Regions from separate parts of the Homo sapiens genome. Here region 2 is linked to region 1. Evidence: fine-mapped expression QTL. A gene starts in region 1. The other region holds a variant in brackets. All regions are shown on one strand. Distances are between the middles of the regions. Region 1 holds the start of CDX2 (caudal type homeobox 2). Region 2 has its middle 13 kb from the start of LINC00543.

The links. PIP is the estimated chance that this variant, and not a neighbour inherited with it, causes the effect. A credible set is the group of variants that fine-mapping cannot tell apart.
Region 2: its variant is the best candidate, but not a certain one, in a credible set for the expression of CDX2 in pancreas (GTEx, PIP 0.52).

Annotation. Positions count from the first base shown.
Region 1 is chr13:27,967,817-27,970,722 of GRCh38, forward strand. CDX2 (caudal type homeobox 2) reads right to left here and starts at 1,499. Exons shown (of 3, transcript NM_001265.6): 1 at 650-1,499. The coding sequence starts at 1,190. RefSeq lists an enhancer at 734-1,425.
Region 2 is chr13:27,939,081-27,941,986 of GRCh38, forward strand. No RefSeq gene overlaps it. Among named protein-coding and RNA genes, the nearest start is that of LINC00543, 13 kb to the right of the region's middle. The variant A/C (reference allele first, on the strand shown) is at 1,770.

The sequences.
Region 1 (2,906 bases):
AGGTCAGAGGTTCAGAGACGGGGCGCGCCCCCGTCGCCTTAGCAGCTGGGGCTAGCACCTTCTTCCCAGCGACAGCAGCTCTCCCTGGTCTGCCTGCTCGCTGTACCTTGAATTGGCCCGAGTGGCCAAACCCGGTCCCACACACAGCCTAGCCATCCTCCGACCCCCCCAGGTCACTTCTCTTCTTAGATGGCTCAGATGGGGAAAGAGAGAGCGGAGATAAATGGCCTAGACCTAGCCCAAGAAGGTTCGAGCCTCCCTCTCTCCTCGGCGGCCAGGAGCCACGCAAGGAATGCATGCCGCAGCAAGTGCCGGAGGACGCGATTCTGCCGGCGTCCAGCAGTGCTCACGCCGACATTCCCCGGAGCTTCCCGAAGGTGTCCCGGGGTTGCGAATGAGGAGCTCTTGGAAAGAGGACGCCTGAACACGGTGTTGAGACTCAGAATATTCACTCCCAGGCTCAGTAGGTCAGAGAAGCCCCGACGGGCCAGAGGCCCCCGAATTTGTCTCCGGGCCGTGCCCCTCCTGGCGCCGAGCTCCCAGACAGCCCGGGACGCCCCTGTGCGCACTGGACGCGCGACGCGCAGCAGCCACTGGCTCGACCCGCGCCTTCCCAAGCACCCTCCGAAGGGGCGCAGCCTCTGCTTACCTTGGCTGCCGAGGGACTGCTGCGCCGGCTTCCGCATCCACTCGCACAGGTTCCGCCGCTGGCCGCCGGGAGACAGCTGCTCGGCGGCAGCGGTGGCGGCGGGCCCAGGAGGGCCGGGGTTGAGCGTTTGCAGCAGCCCAGAAGCGCAGGAAGGCGCGGCGGCCGGGTGGTGCGGGTGGTGATGCGGGTGGTGGTGCGGATGGTAGTCTGCGGGGCTGCTGTAGCCCATGGCTGCGGCCGGGGAGCCACCGTTGAGGCCGTGAGCCACGGCGTTGGCGGCGGCCGCGGCGCCTCCGGGCGCGTAGCCATTCCAGTCCTCCCGGAGTGGGGCGCCATACGCTGCCGGCCAGGATGGCCCCGGGGACTGCGCGCTGTCCAAGTTCGCTGCCGCTGCAGCTGCGGCCGCCACGTGGTAACCGCCGTAGTCCGGGTACTGCGGGGGGCTGACGAAGTTCTGCGGCGCCAGGTTGAGGCCGCCAGAGTGGCGCACGGAGCTAGGGTACATGCTCACGTCCTTGTCCAGGAGGTAGCTCACGTACATGGTGGCGAGGGTCCGGGAGCAGACCTCACCATGCTGCCTGGGGACCGACGCTGGAGGCTGCCGGGGGGCACGAAGGGAAAGGGGCGAGGGGACTCGAGGAGCGGCGGGTGGCTGCGCCCCAGCCCGCGGTGCTCCGCTGGCTCCTCGCGGCTCTTCTGCCTCCGAGGCGGTCCCTCCCTCTGGCCTGCCTCCTCCCTCCCTCCCTTTCTTCCTTCTTTCCTCCCACCTCCTTCCCACTAGGCTGCAGAGGCGGGGAAGACCCGCCACAGGCTGGCGTGCGGAGCCCCAGGCCGGCGGCCTTCCGTGATTAACGAGTGTTTACAAGACTCTATTAGTAATGACACAGACACCAATGGTTGGAGACGTCGAGGCGCAGCGCGCACTCTACGCACAACCCCTCGAAACATAATTTGCATTTTAAAAGATAAAGGGGAGGGAGGCTCGTGAGAGGGCAGCGACCTGACACAGCTAAATATTCAAACCTTTATTGTTAAGAGCTTCCTCCTTCCAACCTGGTGCACTTTAACCTCCAATCACAGGTTCAAAGAATGAAATCAAGAGACTTACAAAAGAGAGGGGAAGAGAAAAGGCTATCTTGGTAGGAATCTGAGCTTGGAGACAGGAGCAGTGGTTGTTTATGCATTTGCAGGGAAGAGGGCGGTCAAGAAACTCCTTCTGTCCCAAAGAGAAAAGAAAAGAGAACCATTGCTTTGATGAGAACGTTTCTGACCAACCTGGTAGGTGACAAGCAGAGAGCCCTAAGAGATGGGCCATTCCTTCCCGCCCTGTGCTCCTGGCCCGGACGACTGCAGCCCCAAACAACTGTCACCTCCAGTTATTTTCTTGCCCAAGGAAATTACTCGCCCTCCGCACAAGACAAATTATGATCCTAGATTCAGGCTGCATCTCTGACTTCATCTTACATTTGAAATTTGAGTTAAATTCAAGCGATTTATTGTTAAACGTTTACATTCAAGAATCAGAAGTTTTAAACTACAGAAGTAATGGGCATGTGGTAGAAGTTAGGCTAGTGGTTATTGGCGTGCATAACTGGAGGCGAGCTAGGGGATCGTTGGTAAAGCAGTTTCTTAGGCTGCTGGTTACACAGAATGTCAGTTTGTGAAAATTCATTGAGCTACACTTGTATGTTTATTATACTTAAATATAAGGAAAAGAGAATTTCTGCTAATGCTTACCTAGGTATTTATGTGTCTTACATCATACCTGTATCTTTAAAACTCTCTGTCCTTTACAAAGGGAAACGTTCTCCGAAGAAATTTATTTCTCATTTCCAGGAGATGATAAGGCAACTCAGGGCCATTATTAACGACTGCTAATGAAAAGCTCTGAGTTGAGAAAGGATCTCTCTTGGTTTGGGAAGCGCTGCGGCCAAGGGGCCTAGGGCTGGAAGTGGCCGTCTTGGGGACCGAAGCCGCGCAGCCCGGGATCGGGAGCTGCCCCGACAGGAGCGCGGAGGCGGCGAGATTCGGCCCCCGCGCGCGCCCAGCTCGGTTTCAGCAACCGCGTGGAGTGGGCCTGCGGCCGCCGTTCACCTCCTAATACAAGCCTTTGACAGCGCTGCCAGATTCGGGAATGAGGATCACTGCGGCGAGGCCCGGCGGGCTGGGCAGCCTGACTCGGCGGCTTTGAGCGCTCTCAGAACCCGCGGGCGCTCGCGGCACTCCTGGAGACCTGCACTTGTCTGTTCTCATTGTC
Region 2 (2,906 bases), 29 kb before region 1:
TTATACATGCATATGCCTAACAGATCAAAATACAAAATATATTTTGACTTTGTAACTTTGTTAGAAAGTTTTGAAAACACTGCTTTAAAAACACTGCTTGGAATGGTGTGATCTTCATTTTATCTGTGTTAAACATTTGGTTTTTTGTTTTGTTTTTAGCGCTCTATTCATCATGTGCTTTTATTAGAAACCAACTCACATCTATTTTGGAGAGAGAAAGTTGAGCTAGGAGAGAGAGAGACTGAGGGCCAGGGTAAAACTCATGTTAAATGCTTTTCAAACAAGATATAATTGTTAAACTTTTATTTATTTATTTATTTATTTTTTTTTTTGAGACAGAATCTCACTGTCGCCTAGGCCGGAGTGCAGTGGTGCAATCTCAGCTCACTGCAGCCTCTGCCTCCCGGGTTCAAGCGATTCTCCTGCCTCAGCCTCCCGAATAGTTGGGACTACAGGCACACGCCACTGCGCCAGGCTAATTTTCTGTATTTTCAGTAGAGATGGGGTTTCACCGTGTTAGCCAGGATGGTCTCAATCTTCTGACCTCGTGATCTGCCCGCCTCGGCCTCCCAAAGTGCTGGATTACAGGCATGAGCCACCGCGCCCAACCTAATTGTTAAACTCTTAATCTCAGCCTCAGAGTCAGTCTTCCACTCTTTGTGATGCTGGAAGTGGGCTGAGGCGCTGAAAATGACATTCTCCTTTGGCAACGGGCTATTGGTCAGGCTCTGCTACTCAGCACGGGCCAGGAGGGAGGCTTCAAGGTGCAAGGCCAGTGGAAGAACTTGCTTCTTCCTTTCTGCTTCCAGTTCGCTTCAGTTGCGAGCCAGGCCGTGTTTCTCCCGGTAGTGGCAATTTATTCCATTAGCAGCAGTTTATTCTGGTTTGCAGTTTCTTCCGAATCGGCACCACCTCAAAGATATCAACACCAGTTGGCCAGCAACCCCTTCTCAGCGGTGTGAGTCCCAGCTCTGTGGAGCCCCTCCTTCAAGCTTCTACATTTTCATATTTACAACCTCTTTATTTTGTTGCCTCAGCCCTGGGGGCTGGTAGCTGCATTTTGCAATCACTCCCTGATGCCTTAGTACAAGCTTGTCCAATCCCTGGCCGTGGCCACATGTGGCCCAGGACAGCTTTGGATGTGGCCCAATACAAATTCGTAACTTTCTTATAACATTATGAGATTTTTTTGCAATTTTCTTTTTTAATTCATCAGCTTCATTAGTGTTAGTGTGTTTTATGTGTGGCCCAGGACAATTATTCTTCTTCCAATGGGGCCCAGGGAAGTCAAAAGATTGGACACCCCTGCCTTAGTGCCTCTGACTGGAAGGGCCTACCAGCTTATACTTCCTATGTTTGCCTGCCTGCCTTTTTTTTCTTCTGTCTTGCCTTCTCTTAAAATGTACTGAGTGGAGAGCCGCAGTGGCTCAGGCCTGTTGTCCTGGTGCATAAGGAGGCGAGGCTAGGCGTTCCAGGCCAGCCTGGGCAACATAGAAACCTCTCATCTATGTAACAAAAAAATAATAATAATAAAATGTACTGAGTAACTGTACTAGGATCTGGACTGGGCTCTGGGTCCTCTGTAAAGTCTGTGAGCACACAACCATGGAACCAATGAGTTTCATGTTCTCTGTGAAACTTCCCAAACATCCCAAGTACCCCTCTGTGGTGTCTACCTTCTAAGATGGCCCCCAATAAATTGTGCCTTTTGGTTTCCACACCTTTATGTCCTCCCCTCCCACAATGAATCTGGGCTGAGCCTGTGACTC[A/C]CTTTAACCAGTAAACTGCAGCAAAACTGATGCTGTGCCCCTTCCGGGCCTAACATCTTTTTTTTCTTTTTTTGACACAAGGTCTCATTCTGTTGCCCAGGCTAGAGTGCAGCGGTGCAATCACAGTTCGCTGAAGCCTTGACCTCCCTGGCTCAAGTGATCCTCCTATGTCAGCCTCCCAAGTAGCTGGGAACACAGGCACACACCAACATGCCCAGCTAATTTTTTTTTTTCTTTTTTTGTTGAGACAGGTTCTCACTATGTTGCCTAGACTGGTCTCAAACTCCTGAGCTCAAGCAATCCACCTGCCTTGGCCTTTCAAAGTGCTGGCATTACAGGCATGAGTCACTATGCCCAGCCTGAGCCTAAAATCAAAGAAGGCCTCATATCTTCCACATTTGTGCTTTGGGAATCCTGGACCACCACGTTAAAATAATAAAAAAACCCAGCTGCCTCGCTGGAGAGACTATATCACGATGTCCTCACAGGAAGATACTGCATGGAGAAAAGAAACCCTGAGAACACCTGAGAAGAGAGGCCCAGGCATCCCAGCATCTCATCCCAGCATCTCATCCCAGCTCTAGCCATCATCTGACTGCAATTATATGAAGCCAGCAAAGGAACTGCCCAGCTGAACCCAGTTAATCTACAAAATGTGAGAGATAATTAACCCCTAAGTTTTGGAGGTGGTTTGCTATGCAGTAACAGATAATTGAAATGCCCCTTCCCTGTTCTATGTTCTTACTCTTTAATCCCATAACACCTTGTCCCTTTGTACCTCTATCATATTCTTACTCAAGTTGCATTGTCTGTCTCCCCTAAGAGATGGCAAGTTTCTAAAGGGTGGTGATTGCATCTTTATTTATTTTATCAGAAAAAGTTCAGTAAAGAAAACAGAAACCACTCAAGGCATTTCAAGCAAAAGGAGATTAGGTATTCACAAGATTATTGAAAGGCACAGCACGAGGCTTTTGGCTTCAAGGTCATATCACCATGGTTGTAATGCATAGGTCTAAAAACTGCTGCTACTACCACAGCTCTGCCCTATATCCAAGAAAATGATGTCCGGACAGTGGAATGTGGATTTGGCCATGCAAATACATCTGCCAGAACCAGCCAGCCACTATGACAAGAACA